Homo sapiens: one gene and its partners. The protein of the gene in region 3 interacts with the protein of the main gene of each other region in a pairwise test. Each region holds a gene or a part of one and is shown on either strand. Other genes may lie near its edges.

What was found.
Region 1: the proteins of GNE (region 3) and KRT86 interact in binary tests that used the Homo sapiens proteins (3 or more experiments, as listed by UniProt).
Region 2: the proteins of GNE (region 3) and EGFL7 interact in binary tests that used the Homo sapiens proteins (3 or more experiments, as listed by UniProt).

The regions. Positions count from the first base shown.
Region 1 is NC_000012.12:52,296,971-52,307,001, reverse strand, and holds part of KRT86 (keratin, type II cuticular Hb6), read right to left. Parts: intron 5,188-10,031; coding exon of another isoform or gene 5,086-5,187; coding exon 4,717-5,085; intron 3,903-4,716; coding exon 3,694-3,902; intron 2,892-3,693; coding exon 2,831-2,891; intron 2,071-2,830; coding exon 1,975-2,070; intron 1,763-1,974; coding exon 1,598-1,762; intron 1,340-1,597; coding exon 1,214-1,339; intron 943-1,213; coding exon 722-942; intron 1-721.
Region 2 is NC_000009.12:136,665,559-136,673,207, reverse strand, and holds the end of EGFL7 (epidermal growth factor-like protein 7 precursor), read right to left. Parts: intron 7,441-7,649; exon of another isoform or gene 7,391-7,440; intron 4,968-7,390; 5' UTR 4,926-4,967; coding exon 4,846-4,925; intron 4,652-4,845; coding exon 4,535-4,651; intron 3,603-4,534; coding exon 3,487-3,602; intron 3,295-3,486; coding exon 3,199-3,294; intron 3,040-3,198; coding exon 2,878-3,039; intron 2,607-2,877; exon of another isoform or gene 2,522-2,606; intron 2,259-2,521; coding exon 2,194-2,258; intron 1,283-2,193; coding exon 1,120-1,282; intron 945-1,119; coding exon 922-944; 3' UTR 530-921; downstream 1-529. UniProt on the Homo sapiens protein: Regulates vascular tubulogenesis in vivo. Inhibits platelet-derived growth factor (PDGF)-BB-induced smooth muscle cell migration and promotes endothelial cell adhesion to the extracellular matrix and angiogenesis.
Region 3 is NC_000009.12:36,220,274-36,228,768, forward strand, and holds part of GNE (bifunctional UDP-N-acetylglucosamine 2-epimerase/N-acetylmannosamine kinase), read right to left. Parts: intron 7,186-8,495; coding exon 6,975-7,185; intron 3,230-6,974; coding exon 3,100-3,229; intron 2,726-3,099; coding exon 2,504-2,725; intron 1-2,503. UniProt on the Homo sapiens protein: Bifunctional enzyme that possesses both UDP-N-acetylglucosamine 2-epimerase and N-acetylmannosamine kinase activities, and serves as the initiator of the biosynthetic pathway leading to the production of N-acetylneuraminic acid (NeuAc), a critical precursor in the synthesis of sialic acids.

The DNA of each region.
Region 1 (10,031 bases), on a different chromosome or scaffold from region 3:
GGGCAAAGAATGAGCTCACATTCTGGGAGTGTTGTCCTTCTGGGAGCAGGAGCTGTATAGCTGCCCTCCAGCTGTATCGCTGGCCTCCAGCCATAGGAAGGCTGAGTGACCAATGGGTCTTCTCCACTCCCCCCACCTCTGAAGCAAGCAAACAAGCAAAAATCCTGAAAGCAAGGCATAACTGCCCCAAGGGATAAGTCCTTGCTCTCTGCCTAACTCATTCCCACCTGCCACAATGGAATACCACTTTGGGATGCTCATTGGCACTATAATAGAAAAGCATGAGTTGATAGTGTCATCTATCTGAAGCTGTCCTTATGGGATACATCTGAACTCCCAGGTCTAGATGGGGCCAGGGCCAGACTAGGAAAAAGAGAAGGAATCCTGAGAAGCACATGCAGCTACAGCTGGAAGGGAAGAAGCACTACCCAGGCAAGCTGACCCCAAGCCTTAATTAGGCTTCTCAGTAACAGGAATACCTGCTGCCAGATTACTGGATCTCAACTGAGATGAACAAGACTGCAATCTCAGATCAGTGCCTGGGTGAACATGAGAGACTCAAACGGGGCTAGATCATACTTAAAGGACTTACACAAATTACCTGTCTGGTTGCAGGGTGGGGAGGTTAAGAAACAAAACTTAAATGCTGCCAGGAGTGTGAGGACAGAGCACACTGAGAACCCTGGCAGGGCTGGGAAAGGGAAAGGTCTATGGGACCCACCTCTGCTCCTCGCCCTCCAGCAGGCGCCTGTAGGTGGCGATCTCGATGTCCAGGCCCAGCTTGGAGTTCATCACCTCCTGGTACTCCCTGATCAGGCAGGCCATGTCCTGCTTGGCCTTCTGCAGGGCACCCTCCAGCTCGGCCAACTTGCAGCGGGCATCGCTGAGGGCCGCCTCACCCTGCTGCTCAGACTGAGCCACCGCAGCCTCCAGCTTGGAATTCTGAAGAGAACAGAGAGAACAAGGTAGATTAGAGTCCCTGGGTCTCTCTGATGCTTACCTCGATGAGACCATGCTCCCCACCAAGCTGGGAGCACCCCAGAACAGAGCCTCTTGCCTTCATCACCTGGGACTCACAGAGACCACAACCAGGGACTCTACATGGACAGAGGGGCTGGAGAATGAATGCTGAGATCCAGATAGGGCACACATAGGCTGTGTGACCATGGTTAGACCCTCGGTCTCTCTGACCTTGGGCACAGATGCCCCATACCTGGCACTTGGCATTCTCCACCTCAGCCGTCAGCCTCTGGATCATGCGGTTCAGCTCGTTGATCTCCTCCTTGGTGCGGCGCAGGGTCTCCCCGTGCCTGATCACCGTGGCCTTCATCTCCTCACACTGGGGGAAGTAGAGATGCTCATGAGGTTCAGGGTGGGACCTCCCACCCATTCAGGGCATGACAGATGATTTTGCAGGTTGTGCAGTGCTCAGCCTGTGCAACCACACATGGCAGTCCTGCCCTACCACCCCAACATCAGAGTGGCAGCCATCTCTTCTCATCCCTAGTGCATCCCCAGAAAAGGAAGCCTATTTAATAGATAATCTCAAATCCCTCCCACTGCCATGTCTAGCAGGCAGGTGTCCTGTGCCACTCACCTTGCTGCGGTACCAGGACTCGGCCTCAGCCCGGCTACGGGTGACAATGTCATCGTACTGTGCCTTGATCTCGGCAATGATGCAGTCCATGTTCAGGTCCCGGCTGTTGTCCAGCTTGACAACCACGGAGGTGTCTGAGATGTGGGACTGGAGAACGCGGATCTCCTGCAGGAGGTGAGGGCAGTGACTTTAGTTGAGAACACAGCCCCACCCACCATGTCCTGACTCCACCTCCTCAGGCTTTCTCTGGTCCCCAACCCTGCCCCCTCACACAGCCTCAGGGACTGCAACCTCTACCCACATCCTGTCCAACACTCCCACCCCCATCTCTCCTCTCTGCTGGCTGCCAGGTCTCTGCCTGGCCCCTGAGCCCGCACCTCCTCATACAGCCGCCTCAGGAAGTCGATCTCCTGGATCAGGGCCTCCACATTGGCCTCCAGGTCTGATTTGCGGAGGTAGGCGCAGTCCACATCCTGGAAAGGTGGGGAGTGTTGGAGCTCAAGGACCCTGGTGATCCAGCCTCTAGATTCCTCTCTCTTCCCACCCATTCCATGAAGCCTGGGGAAAGGAGTCCCCAGTGTCTCATTCCCATGCCCTCTCCTTCCCTTCTGGCCCTTCCCGGGGTGACCTGGCATCCTCTGCCATTCTGAGGACAAACCCTGTTTGTCTTGGGCACGGCTCACCAGCCTTTCACTGCTCCTTACCCTCTTATCTCTCCTTTCTCCCCTCTCCTGCTCCAGGAAGCCTGCCCAGACTGACCCCCCAGCTCTCACACCCTGACCCTTTCCTGTCCCCCAGCAGTGCTCCAAAAGCCCAAGGGCTACTCCTGGTTCTTCTCCATCCCCCCTTAGAACCTGGGATTGTGTCTCTGCCTCAAGGTCAGACTCCCCAAAATGCTAGACAGACTGCACTGTCTCTCAGCAGAGACATTGTATCTGCTATGGCTCCAGGGGCCTCAGCAATAGACCACAACCTCTGGAACAGAGCAGGACACACAGAGGACAGTGCAGCCATCCCCTTGCCCAAGGTAGGTGCTGGTAGATATTCCCAAGTCATTGCCCTTTGTCAAGGCCCTGGATGCTCAATACAAAGGCCTGCATCTGGGCAGTCCTAGCCTGCTGTGGAAAGGTCATTGTGCCCCACGCTGAGGTTGAGACCCCCTGTGTGTCCCCAGGAAGAATCTGTCATTCTGAGATCCCACAGATCTGTGCTTCTCAATCCTGTGTCACTTGCCTTCTTCAGAGCCACAAACTCGTTCTCAGCTGTTGCTCTCAGAGAAACCTCCTCCTCATACCTGAGACAGAGCAGAGGGAAGAGAGGGGAGGTCAGGGCAGGGCAGGTCTCTGCAGAGCCACCATCACATCACACTTCATCACAGCCATGGGGACAGTACTAGAAACACCTCCACACAGCCCCGGCCTGGCAGCCTAGCTTAGTGCTTTCTAGTTGGATGTGGGATGTGTCTGGGATTCTCTATCCACTTTGAACTGGGGATGGAGAGTGCTCATCTGGGACCTCCCAGTCCTGTTCCCAAAGGGGCTCTGAGGTCCCCCAGGAGGCAAATAGGACTCAGCCCCCAGCCCCATCCTGGGAGTGGACAGCGTGGACTCTCAGGGCCTGTAGCCCTAGCCTCCCCTCACTGGTATCAATCCCAGCTCAGGTATGGGGCCTCCTGGACCCGCAGACCCTCAGGACTTAGAACCTAAGGCAGTGCGACACCCAGAGCCCAAGACCTGTCACTCATGAGAGACCCTGGGCTCACATCTGACAGGTGCTACAAGTATAGGGGCTGAGGGTCAGGAGAGAAGGCCTGGACCCTGCAGAGGCTTCCTCCCCACCCAGCGCAGGGGAGAGCTGCTGGGTGATGTGGTTCAGGGAGAGAAGGCTGAAGTGGGACAGAGACAGGTCATGGGAGTCACAGCCCTCCTCTTACACAGGTGTCTGGGCAAAGATTCCACAAAGGAAAAGACCCCGCCACCCTCGGTCAATCTAGTGGTCATGGCCACTCACCCTACCTGGGAGTTCTTATTGTCTAATCCAGTGTATTTAACCTAAACCCCATTCCTGTGCCCAGCATCCCTCTTGCCCGCACTCACTTCTTCTTGTAGCCCTCCAGCACCTCCTGCACGTGGTTAAGCTCTGAGGCCAGCCTCCCGCTGTCGGCCTCCACGCACTCGGCCTCCCGCCGCAGAGTCTCGATGTAGCCCTCAAACAGGGGCTCCAGGTTGCTCTGGCAACACTCGCGGTTCTGGTAGAACTGCAGCTTTGTCTCCAGCAGTTTGTTCTGCTGCTCCAGGAAGCGCACCTGCCATTCGGTGTGGGAAGGTGGGGCAGATGGTGTCTGGTGCCCCAAAGCCAGCTCTGGGGGCTCGCAGGGGAGGTGCTTTAATGGGAACCCCCAAATCTGGAGCTTATCTGAGATTGAGTAGAGGTGGGCAGTGGGAGACAGACAATTTCTGGATTTCCTGGTCATGATCTGTGTCTAGATTTCCCACTCAGGAGTGGAGCAAGGGCTGGGTGGTGTCAGTGCCTGCTCCCTGGGGAGTTGAGTGACCCCCCCCCCACCCCCCACCCAAGCAGATGAACAGAAGTAGAGGCTCAGTCCCTCACTATGAAACTAGGTGATCAGCAACCCACACAGGCAGAGTACTCAGGTTCAGATCACAGATGAGGTTTCTGGGGATGGTGCCAGGAAGAGGGTGTCACAGGCCATCTGGAAGGGAGCTCAGCTGTCCCAGCCCTTCCCCTGTGTCATCTGGAAGTCAGTGCACCCTACTCTCTCACCCTGGGGCTGCCCAAACCCCTCTGAGTTCAGCAGCAGTGGTCACATGCCCCCCTCCCCCAACTCCCTGATGTCTAGCTTGTGCCCCAGAGCAGCCTGGCCACACTTTTCCTTCACAAGCTCCCTCTATCTGAACTGTCAGCTGAGTCTGCATCTTGAGTGCCTGTGTGTGTGTGTCTGTGCATGTGTCTGTCTGTCTGTGTGTCTGTGTGCCTCGCCCATCAGACTGGGATCTCAGGCAGGCAGAGGTCTTTGTGCCTCTGACTCCATCCTTAGTGCCCGGCCCTGGCTGTGTAGGTGGTGGGGGTTCAGGAAGGGTGTGATCCAGGACACCCACCTTGTCGATGAAGGCCGCGAACCTGCTGTTGAGGGACTTGATCTGCTCCTTCTCCTCCTGCTTCACGCACTGCGCGTTGGGGTCGATCTCCAGGTTGAGGGGCGTGAGGAGGCTCTCGTTGACCGACACGGTGGTGATGCATGGGGGACTGGGCCCGCACACGCCCCCGGAGCGGTAGCCGAAGCTGCGTCCGCAGGAGCCGGCCCGAAAGCCTCCGCACACGCTGTGGCTGCCGAAGCCCCCGGTGAGGCCGCGGTAGCAGGAGATGCCACGGTAGGGGGCGGCGGTGATGCAGCAGCGGCCGGGCCGGGGCCCGCAGGCCGAGATGCAGCTGAAGGCGCGGCCACCACAGTAAGATCCACAAGTCATGGTGCTTTTTGGGGAAGAGAGGAGGTTCTGAGGATGGAGACGTCCGAATGGAGAGCACAGTGGTCGGGGCGTCAGGCGTTCACTACTTGCACCTCTGTAGGCCTTTTATATAAGTGGGGAGACTGTGACCACGTGGGTCGGAGCAATTAGAAGGCTTTATGGGCTTGGGTTGTTTAGCTGCTGTCGCTCCCCACTTAATGTACTTAATTGGTGCCCAGAAGCAGCCAGATGTTATGATCTCTTGCCCTAAACTGCAGTTTTCTTCTTCAAAGGACCAACTCACGTCCCGCACACCCACCTCAACCTCCCAATACACAGTTGAGGAAACTGACGTTGGACGAAGGAGTGGGCAGTGACTCAGGTTGGAATGGAAGGGAAGGGGCGGGGCTGCTGCTCTTTCTGTCCTGCGGGGTTTGACATGGTCAATGCCGCTGTCCGCGGTGCTCATAGGACTAGCCAGGAATGTTGGGAGGGGGAATCCCTTGATGTGGAACTTGGGGGGCGCTTGGTGGTTTCTCCGAACTAGATGACCTGTTTCTGCACCCCAAAAGACCCACGTTTACAGAATCTCTAACTTAGTCACCTTCTCAGGGACCCAGTTCCTCCACACCTACTCCCAAATCCCTTATCTATACCTATCAACATGTTTTTTTCTCTCTCTCTCTCCCACTCTCTGGTGCACACACACATACACACACAAACTCACACACAATGCACTCACATGCTGGCCTTCCTACTCACAACCCCCCCTCTCTCTTTCACATACACACTCACACACACAATGCTTTCACATGCTGGCCTTTCTACCCACCATCTCACACACACACACACACTCACAGGTCCTCACCTGCACATTCAACTAGCATGTAGACTAGTCCTCAGGCCACCTTATTAGGTCATATTGGCCAGCCTCGGCTGAGAGGAGGCATTCCCTCCCTCAGAGTGTCCCATGCGGCCTCAGGAGCACACACTAGCCCACTGGCCCCAGGAAAGCACAATTACCTCCCACAAGGCCCTAGACAAGGATTGAATGTCTGGATGTCCTCTCAGGCCTCTGTGTAACCTCCAGGGCCTAGAAGGTCTGGGATGAGCACCACTGTTATGCATCTATACAGTATCTGGCTCAGAATATGAGATCAAATAGAGCCACATGAGGAGAGCATCCAGCCCCTGCCATCATCCCCTGAGTCCCTGCTGCTTTCTGCACTATACTCCTTGAAACTCCTGCACAGAAGTTTGTCAGTACCCTTGGCAGGTGCCAGAGAACAGATCTATATTTGTATGTGCCATCCATCCAGTGTGAATAGTGTGGGTCTTAAACTCACAAAGGCTGGGTAGGAACCAAGGCTCTGCCCTGAGTACCCCTGTGTGATCTAGGGGAAGGCACTTGACTCTCCTGGGAAATAGGTTAAGGCTTTCCCTCCTACTACTGCCTTAGAGTTACAGAAATGTGTACATGCTCAGTGGACTCCAGAGCACAGAGCAGATGGGCTTCATTACAATCATTAGGAAGCGGTGGGCTCAGGGGCAGTGTTTATTCAGAATTCATGTTCTGACCCACTAATTGAACCAACCAGAATTTTATTTTAATGAAATTGATTATGAGAAAATCAAATAGAGTAGAATAGACCAGAAAATAGCAGATTGCACCTTATGTCATGGGAATAACTTGTTACATGCCCTTTTTGTTTCAGTTGTATGGCCTATGTATATGTATGTGCATACTCAGTCACCATGTAAAATTATTTCTTATTATAGTTGCAGCAGAAAAGTTGAAATATCTATTTCTCACTGTATACAAAAACCAAATTAAAATGGATTAAAGACTTAAATATAAGACCTCAGACTATGAAACTACTAGAAGAAAACATTGAGGAAATGCTTAGGGCATTGACCTGGACAAAGATTTCTTGATTGAGACCTCAAAACCAAAGGCAACCAAAGCAAAAAATGGGCAAATGGGATCACATCGAGCTAAAAGAACTTCTGCACACCAAAGGAAACAATCAACAAGTTGAAGAAATGACCTACAGAATGGAAGAAATATTTGCAAACTATTCAACTGACAAGGAATTCGTAGCTGCAATATATAAGGAACTCAAACAACTCAATAGCAAGTAAACCAAATAATCTGATTTTAAAATGGGCAAAAGATCTGAATAGACATTTCTCAAAAGAAGACATATACATGACCAACAGGTATATTGAAAATGCTCAACATATCATCAAAGAAATACAAATCAATACCACAATAAGATTATCATCTCAACCCAATTAAAATGACTTTTATCAAAAAGACAAAAAAATTATGGATGCTGGCAAGGATGTGGAGAAAGGGGAACACTTGTACACTGCTAGTGGGATGTAAGTTACTACAGCCACTATGGAAAACAGTATGGAGTGTCCTCCAAAAGCTAAAAATAGAACCACCAGGTGATCCAGCAATCCCACTACTAGGTATACATCCAAAAGAAAGAAAATTCTTATATCAAAGAGATGTCTGCACTCCCACGTTTATTGCAGCGCTATTCACAATAGCCAAGATTTGGAATCAAACTAAGTGTCCATCAATGGATGAATAAAGAAAGTATGTTACAGATACACAATGGAATATTATTCAGCCATAAAAAGGAATGAAATCCTGTCATTTGCAACAACATGGATGGAACTGGAGGACATTATGTTAGGGAAAATAATTGAGGTACAGAAAGACAAATTTCAGATGTTCTTACACATATGCGAGAGCTAAAAAAATTGATCTCATCAGATAGAGAGTAGAATGATGGTTACCAGAGGCTGGGAAGGGTAATGGGGAGGGGAAGATAAAGACGTGTTAATGAGTACAAAAATACAGTTAGATAACAGAAATGAGATCTAGTGTTCAGTAGCACAATAGAATGACTATAGTTAATCATTTATTGTGTATTTCAAAATAACTAAAGGAGTAGGCTTGGAATGATCCCAACACAAAGAAATAATAAATGTTTGAGGTGATGGATATTCCAAGTACTCTGATTTGATCAGTACACAGTTTATGCTTATCTCAAAATATCTTATGTAGCCCATAAACATGTATAACTATTATGTACCCATAAAAAGAAAACATTAAAATAAATAAATAAATAAATAAAAAGTTTGAATACATGGCATATTAGTTAAGCACACAGACTCAGATTCCAAACTGCCTCGTTTCGAATTCTAGCTCTGCCACTCTCTAGCTGTGTAAACTCAGGCAATTACTTAGCCTCTATGTACCTCATTTCATGATTTCTAAAATGAAGATAATAATAGTACCCACCTCATAAAGTTGTAAAGATTAAAAGAGTTAATCCATGTAAATCACTGAGAACTAAGCCTGGCACACTCTAAGTGTGTAATCATATTAGTTGTTGTTGTTGTTGCTGCTGATGCTGCTGCTGCAGACGTATCAACAGCATTGATGGGATATACTCATCCACATGCCTAAGCCATCTGTGTCCAGTTTTCATTAACCGCCTTATCTTAAAGAACTTGTAGAAGGATTAAATGAAATAATGCATGGACAATGTTTAACAGCAGCTGGCACATAGAAAATGCTCAATAAATGTTATCTACTATATTCTACAGTGGGAGCCAGTCCAAGGGGCAGAGGATCTGAGAAGTTTGGCCATGGTTACTCCATTTGTCCTCGAAAAGAACCCCAAAACACATGCCCCTCCTTCAATCTCTGCTCCAGCCTGATTGCCTCAGAGAAGGTCCAAAGAGAATCTCTTCTCTTTGGCAAAGGAACACACCACCAATCCTTGGGTAACCATACTACTGGATGAGAAGAGAGGCTTGGATAATCTAAAAATTCTGTAATCTGTGAATAATTCATAAGTGTGTATTTATTATTTGGACTTAACAGACCATCAGAAATCCTCAGTCATAAATTAAATGATGGCACACTCACTCATCTTTATTTTTGCCTGATCCTAAAACCTCCTGATTGGTCAGTAGCCAGAGGATTTCATGAGGTTGAGGATGGGGGATATGGACTTGATAATTCATCCAAGTATAATGGTGCTCCAATGAGAGCAAGAGAAGGCAAGCTTTCATTGCAGATGGACAAATGGAAGTTGGAGTTGAGGAAGAACTTGCCAGAAGACAAGTAGTCATTACTTTCTAAAGGAGCTTGCATTATCTCTTCCATTTAGGGAGGCTTTAAGTAAAAGAAAGACACTTCTTATTCTGCAGTGGCCACCATTTTTGTGGAGACAAGGTGAACCAAAAGACCTTCAGATCTGGAGATCAGAATCTCTTCTTTTAGCCCAAGTGGACCTTTATTTCAAGGGGCACTTGTAAAGAATGGGCAAATTAGGTGGTTTTAACATTAGAAAGTTCTTGTTCAGTGCTCCCTTCGGTTCATTCTGCTCCCTGGAGGGTATTATAAGGCAGACTCCTCAAGATAGTTGATCGCTTAGACTAGACAACATTTTCCAGATGGGGGACTCGGGGATTTTGTGACTGATATTTCCTAGCTCTATGCTCAATCCTGTCTTAATTTTGGAGGGAAGGAGGCATTAAGAGGAGGAAGGAAACATGGGTTCTGGAGCTCCCAGTCTGGTAGAGCATATCCAAATTCATGAGAAAGGCCAGAAGTCTAAAGAGGGCTACTTTTCATACATACTGTCAGATACTGAGGCATGCAATGACTGCTGACAGTGTCCTTTCTGGGACAATGTGCAATTGCAGCTAGTCTGATGGGAAAGGCAAGAAAGGCTCCCTGGAAAGGGTGAGGACAAGCTTTAGGCAAAAGGCGGGCAGGACAGTGTTGATGAGAAGATGTGCATGGAAGCATTTCACACAGTGACAGACAATGAGACAGGGCTAGTGGGTGGACAACAGGTGATCCTGTGGGCCCTTGCAGGAGTGGAGAGGATCATGAGATACTGTGACAGCGGAGAGAGAGGGAGAATGCCGGTTGA
Region 2 (7,649 bases), about 100 Mb from region 3:
AGACTCTGTGGGGTCAGCACTGTACTCCGTTGCTGTTTTTTTATAAACACACTCTTGGAAGTGGCTGGGGAGCTGTGGTCACTCACAGGGCGGGCAGGTGACCAGGGCGGTGGAGGCGACGCTGTGTCTTCCCAGCTGCCCTGCCTAGAGGCCCAGGGTGCAGGCACCGCCACCCACCCGTGTTCCCTATCCAGGAGTGGACCCACATCACCCTATACTACTTCCATCGATGGGTGGGGGTGTCGCCTAACGGGCAAGTGTGCCGGGATCCTCAGGCTACTGGGAAGGAGGCCAGAGATTTGCTCTTTGGCCTCTGGTTGGGGCCAACATGTCCCCAGGACAAAGCTCTCTGTGGCCTCACAGAAACCACCTGCCCACCCCCTCTGCCTTGGACCCCCTCCCCACCCCACGACTGCCCGCTCCACCAGGCCCCCTTTGCCAGCTGGCACCCAGCAGTGGGTCTGGGAGGGGTGGCCAGGAGGTGAGCGCCCTCCTCCCAGGCCCCCAGTCCATCCACTGACACAGCAGCTCACGTTTCATTTTTATTGTGCTGGGGGTCAGGCAGCAGCCCCCACTGAGGCCCCACCCAGCCTCCGGGCTGCCTGGCCTGTGCCATGGGTCCCAGGCTCCAGCAGGGAGCTCGTACCTTCCCTCAGCTGAGGGCCCACCTGGCCTTGGGATGCCGTTGGGGTAGCCAGGGTGGGGGTAGCCAGGGGTGGATTCACAGAGAAGATCCCAGCCCATCCCATGCCAGGGTCTGGGGAGCCTCCCGAGGAAGGGGAGGAGGAAGAGGAGGAAGGCCCTGCCTGGCCTTCCGCTCAGTCACCCCGAGGTGGTTTCTGGACCCCCAGCATGTTGGGCAGGGGCATGGGGGCTGCAGGGCGGCGTGAGGGGCTCAGTCCAGCCTGGGGCGCTGGGCAGTCACGAGTCTTTCTTGCAGGAGCCTAGGGTTGGATGAGGCGAAGGTCAGAGATCACTGCTCCCCACAGCCTCCCCGCCCAGCTAGATCTGACTGGCCCCTTGGCCTTTGGTCGCCCCCGACCCCCAAGCCTGGGTAGCCCCTCTAGGCCCACTGGGCCCAGACCCGGGAGGAGGGCTCTGGAGGGTGGGGGCACTCACAGGACCCCAGCTGCTCCTCCAGGAAGGAAATCTGCTCGCTCAGGGAGTCGATGCGGCCGAGCTGCTGGAAGGAGTGCACCAGGAGGCTGCCGGGGTCCGGGAGCCCATGCTCCAGTGCCTGCGAGGCCAGGCTGTGCAGTGGGGCCAGCACCAGCTGCAGCTTCTGTGGGTGCAGAAGGGCAGTGACCCTGGGCCGGCCCCCGCCCTCTCTGCTCCACCGGGGTCTAGGGAGGACCCCTGGGAAGGGCTCCACAAGCCTCCAGCCCCCGCCTCCGCGGCAGGGCTCCAAGTGTCCACTAGAGGGGGCTGCCGTGGCAGAAAAGCTTGCCGCAGAGTGGGTGCCTGGGGCATCAGGCTGGCGGGGTGGTCCCAGCCTTGGGGTCCCTGGCAGGAGAACTAGGGGGACAGCTGGACCACTGGCCAGTGGGAAGACTGGCAAGAGCTCTTTGTCCTGGTGGGGACAAAGATGGGGGGGTGGGGAGGTCTCGTCTGGGTCCAGGCTCTGTGTATTGTCTGGGGGGCTGTCAAGCTTGGTTCCTCCGGCCCTGGGGGGTCCTGGTCAGTGTCCAGCTGCTTCTGCCCAGCATGGATCCAGGCCAGGGCCCCCTCGGCAGTCAGCAGCGAGGAAGCCACCTCCCCAGGGCCAGGACCTTTTCAGACCACCCCCAGCCATCCGTGGGTCGGGACCATGTCCCAGGAGACTACGGAGCCTGTACCCGGGCCTGGGCCTCTGCTGTTGTGAAGACCTGCCCCCTGCCGACGTCTCACCTCCTCCAGCAGGTCCACCCTGGACTGCCTGCCTCCCCCCCCGACGCCTCATCTCCTCCAGCAGGTCCACCCTGGACTGCCTGCCCCCCCGACGCCTCACCTCCTCCAGCAGGTCCACCCTGGACTGCCTGCCCCCCCGACGCCTCACCTCCTCCAGCAGGTCCACCCTGGACTGCCTGCCTACCCCCCCGATGCCTCACCTCCTCCAGCAGGTTCACCCTGGACTGCCTGCCCCTCCACACCTCACCTCCTCCAGCAGGTCCACCCTGGACTGCCTGCCCCCCCCCCCCCCCACCAATGCCTCACCTCCTCCAGCAGGTCCACCCTGGACTGCAGCCTCTGCACTTCTTCCTTCATTGCACTGTCCACTCCTGCGGGCAGAGCCAGGCGCTGGGTCACGGCCGGCCGGCTCCCCACCCACACCCCCAGGCTCCCTCCTGTCCCCAGGGAGAGGCAGAGCCAGAAGACTCAGGCCCAGGCCTCTGCCGCCCCCGCTGCCTGCCTGGCGCTGGCCAGAGGTCTCAGGGCTATGCCGCCTAAGTACGTCGGGGCGGGTGGCTCTGCGCAGAGGCTCAGGGTCCCGGCCACGCTGAGGGAGGTCAAGGCTGAGGTCTCAGCGGCGTTTTCGATGCGGTGCCGTGGACGGCGCATTATTACTCACGGTACGAGTTTGAAGTGTCACAGCGCGTACCAAAAGTAATAATGTCCCGTCGCCAGCGGAGGCGTGGCGTCTTCCAGAATGCTGCGCTGGATGCAGACAGGACCCCGGGACGGGGCACTTCTGCCTTCTTGGCTGATATGAGGCTCCGGGCAACCTGCCCCCAGTTCTCGGGAACCCACCTATCCTCCCTCCCCATCCTCCCTCCCTGGAGAGGGAGTCCCCACCGCCTTCCGCCCAGATTCCAGTGCCCCCCACCATGCCTAACAGCCACACGGCAATGTCCACTGCCTGCCCGCCTCCCCAGGCCAGGCACAGCCAGGGCTGTTTACCTGTCGGGTTGGGGGCCACCCTGGGGGGCCCTCCCTTGGGCACACAGAGTGTACCGTCTGCAGACAGGCTGTGCCCCTCCCAACACTGGCACCAGTAACTGCCGGCGGTGTTGACGCAGCGCTGGGGACAGCCGCCCCTCCTAGCACTGCATTCATCCACATCTGCAGGAAACGGGGTGTCAGGCGGCCATGCCTGCGGGAGGGGTCCTGCCCACACAGCTCCCTTCACAACCACCCACTCATGGGCCAGCAGTAACCCCAGGACATGCAAGGAGGTGCCCAGGACCCTTCCAGGGCCCCCCAGGGTAGAGCCAGCCTCACCTGACTGGCAAGTGTCACCCCGCCATCCTGCAGGGCAGCGGCAGCGGCCAGGCTGGACACAGCTCCCTCCGTTCCGGCATGGCGGCTGGCATATTGCTGTGGGCGGGGGAGGCTGGTCACCAGCTCAGTTGGGTCCCCAGCACCCTGTGGGGGCAGCTGCTAGGGAGTGGGTGCTCTGCGGCAAGGTGGTGCTTTGCTCGGGGTTCAAGAAAAGCAGCAGGAGCGTTGCTGGAAGATTGGGGAACAGTCGCCCTCCTAACACCGGGCGCCGAGGGACATAGCCCTCACCTGCTCCACAGGCCCCAGGAAGCCCGCTGGTCCTCTTCCAGCCGGGGCAGCACGCGTAGCGAGGCCTGGCAGGGGCCAGCCCAGGGCTGCGGCGGTAGGCGGTCCTATAGATGGTTCTGTGGGGTGGGTGGGACAGCTCAGAGGGGCATCCTACTCCCCCTTAGTCACCTGCTGGGCATCTAGAGTCCCCTCTCAGAGTGCACAGGGTCACCCCAGCATGCCCCCAAGGGTCTTCTCCTCAAGGGATGGCACTGAGGGGTCACTGCACAGCCGTTTCCCTGCCTGGGCCTTCCGGTGCTGGCCGGGACTCAAGCCACAGCAGGAAGGCCCAGCCACACTCCGCATGGAGCAGAGGCAGTGGCCAGGCCTGTGTGTGCCCCCACCTATCTGGTCTCCTACTGTGGGGGCATCCAGGCCCAGAGGAGAGGGTGTGCCCGGCCTACGGCGAGTCACGGCAGAGTGTGGGCCCTGGGCATCGGAGCCCTTCTTAAACCTCCAGAAGTCTGAATTCCCAGGCCCCTCCCCCAGCAGGGGGTGGAGCTCCCACACCCAGGAAGGAGGACTCTGAGACTTAGGGGTGTGTGCCCCTTGTGTGGGCATACAGGACATTTCAGGGTCTCATCTGTGCCCACTGGGGGCCGTCATGTGGAGGGGGGTGCCCAGTGGAGTGGGACCAGGGGAGTCAGGCACCATTCTGTGTATATGGGAACTTGCAGCCAGGGATGCCAGGGTAGGGAGGGGTTAGTCCCCCGGAAGTGGAGGGGTGCAGACAGGATGGGTGACCCCTCTAAACATGGGGATGCTCTTAGAGGTGCGGTCCTTTGAGACGTGTCGGGGCAAGAGCAAGGATTAGGACACTGGAGGTGATCGTGGAACCCCTTGGCTCCGGCCGCCCTGGGTCGCCCATCTCAGGCAGCCCTCTCATGGCTCTGGCCTCAGTTTCCCATCTTGGGTCCCAGGATTCACCCCCGCCTCGCCCCTGACATGCTGATGTGTGGCCGACTTGGGAGGCTGGGGCTGGGTGAGCTCGGTGTGGTGGGGCACTCACCGGTAGGTGCTGCAGGCCCGGTGCCCGTCGCAGGTGGTGAGGAAGGGCTGGTACACACGCTGCACGAACGACTCGGAGACAGGGTCCCCGTGAGCCCGGACAGCACACACCCTACGGCTGCGGGGGTGGAGAGGGGGTCAGCCCAGGAGTCCCAGAGCAGGACCCAAGAATGATGGGAACATGTGGCCGGGGCAGGACCCTCAGCAGGAGCCCCCAGGGAGTCCCCGACAGGTGCTGAGGGCCGCCTCTAGGAGGTGCTGAGGGCTCCCGGTCCCCCCACCCCAGCACTCCCAGGCTAGGGCTTGGCTCACCCGGGCCGGTAGGCGTGCTCTGTGCCGCCCACTGCCAACACCAGAAGCCACATCAGCAGCACCTCCTGAGAGCCCCTCATGGCCTGTGCCTCCAGGCGGGGTGGCCTTCTCCTCTGGGTGGCCTGGGGCACAAAGCATGACCCCTAAGTCTCCCCGCAGATGCCCCCAGGACGCGGGTGCAGTTTGCACTTGCTCCGCGAGGCCTGCCCAGCTCATCTCCGCTGGAGCCTCCACCGGTGGGACAGCCCCACGGTGGCGCCCACTCTCTCCTCCGCTGGCCCCCTCTTCCAGCTAGCCAGACCCTCGCCAGGCACAAACAGCTGGGGCCACAGCCTGGGGGCACAGGGGGGGTGACGCTGTCCAGAGCTCTTGGTGCAGGAATCGAGTGGATCCTGCTGGGCATCTGCCCGAGGCTCCGGGAAGGATGGCTCCAGCTACGGGTGGCCGTTTCTCCTGTCCTGCCTGGTTCCAGGGCCCTCCTCACAGCAGGGCAGGGGTGAGTTTGCACCCCAGTCTATGCAAACGGGGTGTTCGTGGGCAGAGCTGGGATCCAGCCCCACCAGGGACCTGCCGGCCTCAGCCCTTCTGGAATTTGATTTCTCATCTGAGTGTGGAACCGGCCCCAGCAGGTGGGCCAGCAGCTGCAAGCCAGCAGGAACCGTGCGGAGGGTGCACACATTCTAAGACCACCAGAGGGGCGGCCTTCATTTTAGAGGGGGTCCTTCCCAGGCTGGGATATGTGTGCAATCAGCCTCCAGGGATCCTGGGACAGTGGCTGTGCCAGGTGCACACCTGGGGGTGAGGAGCAGCCCCCGACAGTGTCACCGGAACCGGAATCCAACCCCCTCCTGGCTGTGCAGCAGGAGCCAGGGGCCCGGGTGAGGCTTCCTGAGAGCATGAGAGCCCAGAATTAATGGTCTGTGGCAATGCCGGGGATGGGGATTCTGTCCTATGCGCAGCCAGGGGTCTGGAGACCTGGCGAGCCCCTGCCATGCTGCAGGGTCCCACCCAGGGCCTCTCACGGGTGCTTCCCAAAGGCTGGGTGGGTTCCTTCCGAGGCACTGCAGGGCCCTCCGCAGGGAAAGGCCAGGCTTCGGGTCGGGGCAGAGGCTGGGGTAAGGCTGTCCCTTCTCTGGGATTCAGTTTCCTCACACACTAGAATAGGGTCTCTGAGGCCCCTCCTCAGCTCTGACAGCCAGTCCTATAAATAGTCACACTGTCCTCAGTCGCTGCTGGCCAGCCCCACTGGGTGTGGAGCACGATCCCACACCTGCTTCCCACGGGCACTGCCAAGGCATCACCCGGTCCCAGCGGGGAGGGTGGCTGGGGGTCCTTCCTGGGCCTCCAGTCCTCTGTGCGCTGGAGAGAGGAGGGCAGGGCAGAGGCTGCCAACTAGGCAGAGGCTGCCCTGGGCAGCTGAGGGGTGGGGACTTAGCTTGGGGGCAGGGGGGGCATCACAGCAGTTTTTGGGCAGGAGTTTGTCGAGGGGGCAGAGCTGGCTGGAGATTAACTCTGGGGATGGGCCCTGGATGAAGGACACTGTTAGGGGCTGGGTCTGGTGCGACCTCAAGGCAAGACTCGAAGTCGGGGGACATTGGGGAGTGGGACCCGGGAAGGAAGAGGTAGGGCAGCGGCCCGGCGGCTTGATGTGGGCAGGGGGATGCCAGGGCGGGCCTGGGGGTAGGCGAATCTCCCAGACCTCATTGCCCCCCACACATATTGGCACAGCTCCCCCCCACAATTCCTGAGAGTCGCCTGGACAGGAAGCGGTGCTAAGTGGAGACTCAATTTTTGAAAGTCATGTTTTCCCGAGGCCAGAGGAAGCCCGTGGTGCTCTCCGAGCCGGTGCTGCAAGCCCCATTTCCCCGGGGGGGGCCACGGCCTCGACCCAGGGGTGCCGGGCGGGGAGGGGGCGGCGGCGCCAGGTGGACCAGCAGTCCGGTCCCCGTGCCCCCAGCGCCCACGGGCTCCCTCCCCACCTGCCCGGCAGCAGCCCCGCAGCCCCCACCCGCGAGAGGCCGGGTCCGCAGAGGGAGGGGCCTGGCTGCGCCGCAGGCACTGGCGGACCCCTCGCGGCGGGAGCAGGGCTGGGGACCGCGGGGCCCACGAGGGAGGGCGCAGAGGCGGAGCGAGACGGACCTGCCCGCCGCCCCCTCCCAGCCGCGCTGCTGGCTCCGGGGTTCGCGGGGGGCGGAGCAGGCGGCACAGGCTGGGCCCCGAGGCGCTGAGTCGCGCCGGGTCGGACGAGGGGCCGCGGCGACCCCGGCCCTCCCCGCCGCGCCGCCCGCCCGCCCGCCGCCGGCAGGGGGAGCCGGTTCCCGGGGCCGCTGGGCCCATTCTCCCGGCCCGGCCCGACCCAGCCGCGGGCGCCCCGGCCCGCTCCGCCCCCGGCCCCAGCGGTCGCGCTGCCTCGTCCCGGAGCCGCCCCCAGCTCCGCGCGCGGCCAGGTTCCCCGCCCCCGGGGGCTCCGCGGGTCCCGCCCTCGACCCAGCCCGGGCGGCGACCGGACCCCGACCCCGGCGCGCCCCGCTCGCTCCGCACTCACCGCCGGATCCGGGGCGCGCACGCGCCGCCGCCACTGCCGCCCGAGCCCGCGCCGTGGGGGCCCCGAGCCCCGCCCCGCCCCGCCCCCGGCCCCGCCCCACCTGGCGGCCCCGCCCCGCCCCCATTGCGCAGACGGGGAAACTGAGGCCCCGCGGCGGACGAGCTGCCCCCGGGCGGGCAGTGACTCTGCTGGAACCCGGGGCTGACGCAAACGCGCCTCTGAGCCGCGGCCCGCCAGCACCCCCTCCGGGAATCCTGGG
Region 3 (8,495 bases):
TGCAGCAAAAATGCATGCCCACCTTGTGGGTAGCAGACCCCCTGGCCCAGCACACACTGTCCATCTTTCTGCACCAAGGCTTTCTCTAACACTGAAGCAAGAGCCTACTCAGCCACGCAGGCACAGCACCCAGGGGCAACCTGCAACCGAGGCAAGGCAGGAGCCGGCAGATCCACAGGACAATTCTGGATGCTGTTCTGCAGGCTTCTTAGGAGGTGCTAGTGGAGTTCAGCCCCCTTTGCCCTCAAGTCAACTTCAATAATGTTAATATATCCTTAATGGCTTTCTTCCTGCTCTGTTTCATTCTTCCCACTCACCCTCCTGCTTCTTGTGGTCACCTCCAAAAAACCATACCTGTACCTAAATCCTTGTCTCAGGCTCTGCTCTGAGGAATACCCAAGATAAGTCTTTTAAAATGTATCACACACTACCTGCTTCCTGAAGCAGAAAATATGAAATAATGATTTTGCCTTTTTTGATGCTGCCATGTCTAAAAATCTGTGATTCAATAATTATAAATATCAGTGACTGTCTTTTGTTATGGCGTTTAGCAGTTACAAAGGAGTAAAGGGTATTGTGCCTGAGAAGGCTCTGCTTTTAAGGGTTGTCTTGCCATCTGTCACTTCTTGGGCACTTATTCCTCAACCCCTAGCCCTCTGATTTACAGCTTAGTCACTGCTCTGAGCCAGGAAATGGTATCCAAGTTTGCTAAAACTGTGTCTGGAACTAAAAGAGGATGAGCATGAGCTAAAGTACATGAGCTTAGGCTGGGTGTGGTGGCTCACCCCTGTAATCCCAGCACTTTGGGAGGCTGAGGCGGGCAGATCACCTGAAGCCAGAAGTTCAAGACCAGCCTGACCAACGTGGTGAAACCTTGTCTCTACTAAAAATACAGAAATTAGCCGGGTGTGGTGGCACATTCCTGTAATCTCAGCCATTTGGGAGGCTGAGGCAGGGGAATCACTTGAATCTGGGAGGCAGTGAGCTGAGATTGTGCGACTGCACTCCAGCCTGGGTGACAGAGTGAGACTCACTCTTTAAATAAATAAATAAATAAGTACATGAGCTTAAAGGGATAGTGGTGTAATGTAGAGTTTAAGCACATACAAGTTTTGAAGTTAGACATATCTGTATCAGATGCTGGCTTAACCGCTTATTAGCTAAGTCTGTTTCCTCATTTAAAAATCAAGTTATACACTTAAAATATATACAACAAAAATAAAATAGAGTAAAAAAACAAAAGTAACAAATTGGGATGTCATAAAAAAATGACAGAGCAGGGAACTCCAAAGGTCCATTCTGCCACTAAAGTGAGGAAAAAACTGGTAAAAATGTCAGAATCAACCTTTTTGGAACTCTGGAAACTAACCAAAGTTTGCAACAAACAGAGGAATGCTTAATTTAAAAAAGAAAAACAAAAACCAGGGCCAGGTGCAGTGGGTCATGCCTGTAATCCCAGCACTTTGGGAGACCAAGGCAGGAGGATCCCTCGAGCCCAGCAGTTTAAGACCAGCCTGGGCAACATGGTGAGACCCTGTCTAAAAACAAAACAAAACCAGCTGAATCTTGATAAGAGAACTTTCTGGTGTTGTAACCTACCCTGGTCCCATCACCCACTCTCCAGCTTGGTGGTGACCTTGAACAACAGTCCACACTCCCAGTACTGGTGTACAGAAACAGTACTGGATACCAGTACCTGACGGGGCAGGACGAACTTATTTTCAAAAAATTGTGGTTGTTTGTTTTGACCTGCCTGTCACCTCCCTGGAGGACCACCTCAAAGGGCCTGCTTTCATCTTAACTAACTAGGAACTATCCTAGTGCTGAGGGGGTTACATGAAGGATGTTTATCAAAAACATTTCGGCCGGGCGCGGTGGCTCACGCCTGTAATCCCAGCACTTTGGGAGGCCGAGGCGGGCGGATCACGAGGTCAGGAGATCGAGACCATCCCGGCTAAAACGGTGAAACCCCGTCTCTACTAAAAAATACAAAAAATTAGCCGGGCGTAGTGGCGGGCGCCTGTAGTCCCAGCTACTTGGGAGGCTGAGGCAGGAGAATGGCGTGAACCCAGGAGGCGGAGCTTGCAGTGAGCCGAGATCCCGCCACTGCACTCCAGCCTGGGCGACAGAGCGAGACTCCGTCTCAAAAAAAAAAAAAAAAACATTTCAAGGTAAAATGTATTAGTCTGTGCTGTCTAGGGCAAAGGATAACAGCTGGGGCATCCAACACACTAACCAAAAAGACTGGGAGGAAAAGCTGGGAAATGAGAAGCTCTGGGAAATAAGAGCTTTGAATAGCTCTGACAAGTTCCTGGAATTTAGAAGGCCACAGGCATGTCTAAGGCTGGGCACATGCTCAGAAAAGGCCACATGTGGCTCACCTTCAGGCTCTAGTCATGCAGGAAGTGAAGGCTAAGGCAGAGTTGTAACCACCTGACCATGTTGAAGACATGCTCCAATATACATTCTAGCTCCTGAACCAACCTCCCCCTACCCCTCTTACCTGTGCCTGTGATAAGTGTAACAAAGTTTTCCAGTCCCTTTCCTTGGCCAAATTTCCTTTCCGCCAGGGCAGCACAGTTGCCATCATTGTCTACCCACACAGGGAGATGCAAAGTGTCAGAAAGGGGGGTCCTAAGGTCCACAGAGTTCCACTCTTGGATCAGTTTGGTTGAATGCAGCACAATTCCTTCCCGAGGATTTACACGGCCACCTGTGGAAATGCCTGCGCTCCACCACAAACACAAGGAAATAATGCTGATGAGCAATCTCAGGAAAGTATGCTGACTTTCTTGTCTTAAGAACACAGATTCATTCACCCCAGATCTCCTAAGACAAACGTTACCAAGGACTGCAAGGAAATATTAGACAGTTGTGAATTAAAGCCATAGCACCTTAAAGATTTCTAGAACTGTCAGTGCTTCTCTCCTAATGCTTGTTGGTGTCCCAGGAAGTCCCCATGCTTGGGGCCCACAGACAGCACCTAGAGCCATCTATGCACAGGGCAGACACTGACTTGATGCTCAGGCATGCATCACAAGTTAGTAAATTTTGTACATTAAAATGAGCATTTCTTGGATTTATAATTTACAATCTTACCTACTCCCAAAATTCTGCAGTTCAGTTTTACAGCTTCTGCTGCAGCTTCCACACACATCTGTAGGATTAAATTAATCCTCTCTTCATAGGTTTTAGGATTGAACTGAGTATACTTCTTAACTATTTCACCCTAAAAGAGAAAACAACAAGTTCCGTCTTACTGGTCTTAGCTAAGCAGCATATTGTGAGTGTTGTGATCTTTTTCATGACAAATTAGACACTGCTATAGGATGGCCCCGCAGTCTTAGATGACTGCTTGGGGAAGGACCCACTGCCTGGTCTGGGCCAGCCCTGGGGTAAGCTCAAGTAGTTCCTGTAATCTGTCCTAATATGGGGCTGTTGAAGCAATGACAACTCCACAGGCAGCAAGATGGGCCCCTCTCTTTTTTTTTTTTTTGAGATGGCCTCTCGCTCTGTTGCCCAGGCTGGAGCGCTATGGCGCGATCTCAGCTCACTGCAACCTCCACCTCCCAGGTTCAGGCGATTCTCCTTCCTCAGCTTCCCAGGTAGCTGGGATTACAGGTGCCTGCCACCACGCCCGGCTAATTTTTGTATTTTTAGTAGAGATGGGGTTTCACCATGCTGCCCAGGCTGGTCTCAAACTCCTGACCTCAAGCAATCCGCCTGCCTCGGCCTCCCAAAGTGCTGGGATTACAGGCGTGAGCCACTGCCCCCGGCCGGGCCCCTTTCTTAAGCTTAAGTTCAATGTTCGCTAATTTGAGCCTAGTTCATTAAAAGACCATAGTTTACTCTTTCAGGTTGACAAAACTTTCTTGCTTACTGAGGTGACCGGGCATAGTGGCTCACGCCTGTAATCCCGGCACTTTGGGAGGCCAAGGCGGGAGAATCGCTTGGGCCCAGGAGTTTAAAACCAGCCTGGGAGGTACAGTGAGACCTCCTCTCTACAAAAAATTAGCCAGGCATGTTGGCACATGCCTGTAGTCCCAACTACTTGGGAGGCTAAGCTGGGAGGATTTCTTGAGCCTGGGAAGTTCAGGCTGCGGTGAGCTGAGATCACGCCACTGCACTCCAGCCTGGGCAACAGAGTGAGACCCTTTCTCAAAAACAAAAACAAAAAAACACTGAGGCAACTAAGTAGCTGAGCTTTAATCATCTCCTGTAACTGAATTCAGTGATGGTCTGGATACTCTATTTCCTTAGGGTAAATTTCCATCCTGGCTGGCAGAAATACCACATTGTTTAAATTATTATATGGCCGGCCGTGGTGGCTCACGCCTGTAATCCCAGCACTTTGAGAGGCCGAGGCAGGTAGATCACTTTGACCTCAGGAGTTCAAGACCAGCCTGCGCAATAAGAGGAAATCCCATCTCTATAAAAAATACAAAAATTAGCTGGGCGTGGTGGCACACGCCTGTAGTCTCAGCTACTTGAGAGGCTGAGGCTGGAGAATCGCTTGAACCCAGGAAGCAGAGGTTGCAGTAAGCCGAGATCATACCACTGCACTCCAGTCTGGGCGACAGAGTGAAACCCTGTCTCAAAAAAATAAAACACATTACTGTGCTTTTTGATATGTTTTAATACCAAACAGGGATAGTCCCTCCTGATTACTTGTCTTTATCTTTTTTCTTTGCACAACTGACTTTTGTACTTTTAATGTTAAACTTTGAGAAATTCCACTGTGATTTACAATAATTTTACTAAATGTAAAACAAATACCATTGAAATATTTACTAGATTATGTTGATCTTATAAATCAAATTGGGAAAACACTGACATCTTAAAAATAATCAGCACTTCCATCCAGGGCATTTTTTTCAAGACTTTATGTCTTACAGTAAAGTTTTAGAATTTTCTTTATATAGATTACATCGTTCCTGGTTTCAGTTATTCTTAGGAGTTTTTGTTGTTGTTCTGAATAAGATCTCTCTTTCCATTTATATTATTTTGTTATTAGTGGATTTTTATATCTCAAATATAGGGTTAGAGCTGTCACTAGGATTGTCATTAAAAATAAATCTAGGTCAGGCACGGTCGCTCACACCTGTAATCCCAGCACTTTGGGAGGTCGAGGCTGGCAGATCCCTTGAGCCCAGGAGTTCAAGACCAGCCTGGGCAACATGGTGAACCACTGTCTCTACAAAAAATACAAAAATTAGCCAGGCATGCTGGCATAAGCCTGTAGTCCCATCTACTCAGGAGGCTGAAGCACAAAAATCACTTGAGCCCGGGAGGCAGAGGTTGCAGTGAGCCGAGATCACGCCACTGCACTCCAGCCTGGGCGACAGAGCAAGACTCAGTCTCAAAAAACAAAAATACATCTAGAGCTGGGCACAGTGGCATGTGCCTGTGGTCCTAGCTATTATACTTGGGAGGCTGAGGCAGAGGACCATTTAAGCCCAGGACCTTGAGTCCAGTCTGGGAAACATAGGAAGACCTTGTCTCTAAAAAAAAATTTTTTTAAATTAAGAGAATAAAAAATCTAGAGTAGTGCTTCTCAATCTTCGCTGTGCATCAGAATCACCTGGACAGCTTTTAACGAAGAGCGATGCCTGGCCCCCATCCCCAGAGACTCTAATTTAACCAGTCCAGGGTGGGAGCCAAGCATTTTTTTGTCTATTAATAATGTTTTTTGTTTTACCCTATCAATAATCTCCATTTTTGCTATTCCTTCCTTTATTCCCTCATAACTTCCAAAATTATGTGAGATAATGCTGCACAAAACATCTTTCTTTTCTTCTTGATTTCAATGGGAATGCCTCTAGAATTTCACCATTGAAAAAGATGTTGGCCTTTCATATGGAATAAATCATCTTTCTGTTAAGAAACTATTCTTCTATTAGTTTTTGTTTTGTTTTTTGAGATGGAGTCTCACTCTGTTGCCCAGGCTGGAGTGCAGTGGTGCGATCTTGGCTCACTGTAATCTCCACCTCCTGGGTTCAAGCGATTCTCCTGCCTCAGCCTCCCAAGTAGCTGGGATTACAGGTGCCTGCCACCATGCCCAGCTAATTTTTTTTTTTTTTTTGTATTTTTAGTAGAAACAGGGTTTCACCATGTTGTCCAAGCTGGTCTGAAACTCCTGACCTTAAGTGATCTGCCCACCTGGACTTCCCAAAGTGCTGGGATTACAGGCGTAAGCCACTGCATCCAGCCTTCTATTAGTTTTTAAAAGAGTATTTATAAGGGAGGCCTCTTGGCTTTTCTTGAGAAAATTATGTTTTGTTTTGCTTTCCTTATTTGACCTAATGGTATTAATAAATTTCCTACAACTTTACATTTAAAATCTTTGCTATTTCTCATCGTCTCTGGAAGCTTTATACACTCACACTATTTCAAACCAAGATTTTTCTAGTAGGTTTATTCTAAGTCATTAGAGATCACTTTAACATGAACAGTTTGTTATTTTTATGAATGTTCTCTCACCTGTCAACACTGGGTGATGGTTTGGTTAACAGATTGAAGGTATGCTGTACTCAATAAAGAGCAGAACTGTAAAAATGCAAAATGGAAAATCCACACAACTGATCACATTCTAGAGAAGAGGCAGCTCCCTTCACCATTTGCTGATACCCCTCACCTGGGCAGTGATAGTAATCAGCATACTCCACACTCCAAGCTGTTACCAAGTATAGAATTTCAGGTCTTTTGGGTGGCAAAAGCCCGATCTGATGCCTAAAGGGGTCTTCCCACTGTCAAGTCTACCGTCTTGGATTCCCAAAGAATTTACTTCTTTGAAATGTTAATGATCAGTAAAATAGTGAGACAAACATTGTAAAGGATCCACAAGTCAATACTATCAGCAAATGATTACAAGCTCTTGTGTATGTTTCTAGTCTTACCTTCCAACTATATATACTTAAAAAAAAAATCAATCGCTCATATGGGATATAAAGTTAGGAGTTTAGGAGTTATTTTACCTTCATGCTGACTATTGCAACTCGGAGGTTCGTCCCGCCAAGATCAACGGCCAAGGCACTTAGAGTTTCAAGAATATGGTCAATATCTTGAGAGATATTCTCCTTCACAGGAGGAAAGCAGAATTTCTTTTGCAGTGGCTCTTGAAGATCGATAGATTTGAGAAACTTCAAAATCCTTGGAACAGCATTTCCATCCCCATATATCTTTGAACTGCAATATACAAAAAGTCAATTAAATTATATGCTTCTGCCATACATGTTAAGTGGTAGTGAGGGTATAATGTAATGGAAACTGAGACTTCAGGTAAAAATAATTCATGCTTCTTCCTAAAGTGACATCTTCCTGCCGTGCACAGTGGCTCACACCTGTAATCCCAGCACTTTGGGGGGCTGAGGCAGGAAGATTGCTTGAGCCCAAGAGTTTGAGACCAGCCTGGGCAACACAGACATAGCAACTCTATCTCTACAAAAAGTAATTTTAAAAATCATGTTTAAAGAAATAAATAGGCTGGGTGCAGTGGCTCATACCTGTAATCCTAGCACTTTGGGAGGTCGAGGCTGGCGGATCACCTGAAGTCAGGAGTTCAAGATCAGCCTGGCCAACACGGTGAAACCCCATCTCTACTAAAAACACAAAAATTAGCCAGGCGTTGTGGGTGCCTGTAATCCCAGCTACTCAGGAGGTTGAGGCAGGAGAACTGCTTGAACCCGGGAAGCGGAGGTTGCAGTGAGTCGAGATCGCACCACTGCACTCCAGCCTGGATGACAGAGCAAGACTCCGTCTCAAAAAAAAAAAAAAAAAAACAACCAACAATAACAAAAAAGAAATAAAATAACATCTCCACAAGATATACATACTTCAGAACATCATGTTGTACACAATAAATACATACAATTTTATCTGTCAATTAAAAGTTAAAAACTATAAATCATAATTATACAGAACTAAAAAAATTTTATATAAAATAATATCTAGATCTCTTCAGCAACATTGTAACTAAGTGCCTGTATTTTTTTGCTTTTTTTAGTTTTTATCTTTATATTTCTGAGAAAACAAAATTATTTTCAGAAAGAAATATTCAAATACAGGGAAATCTCATCGATTTGAAACAGAAAGGAGGGTGGTCAAAATTAATTAAAAAGCTGAACTAGACTTTTTAAAAAAAATCAGTTACATTATTTTCTAATATTTATAGAAAGCCAAAGAAGGTTAAATAAGTGTAGCAAAAGTGTTGTATTAATTAAGAGAAACAAATAAAATAAGGCTGGGCGCAGTGACTCACACCTGTAATCCCAGCGCTTTGGGAGGCTGAGGCAGGCGGATCACCTGAGGTCAGGAGTTTTGAGACCAGCTTGCCCAACATGGTGAAACCCCATCTCTACTAAAAATACAAAAATTAGCCAGGCGTGGTGGTGCGCACCTGTAATCCCAGCTACTTGGGAGGCTGAGACAGGAGAATTGCTTGAACCCAGGAGGCGGAGGTTGCAGTGAGCTGAGATGGCGCCACTGCACTCTATCCT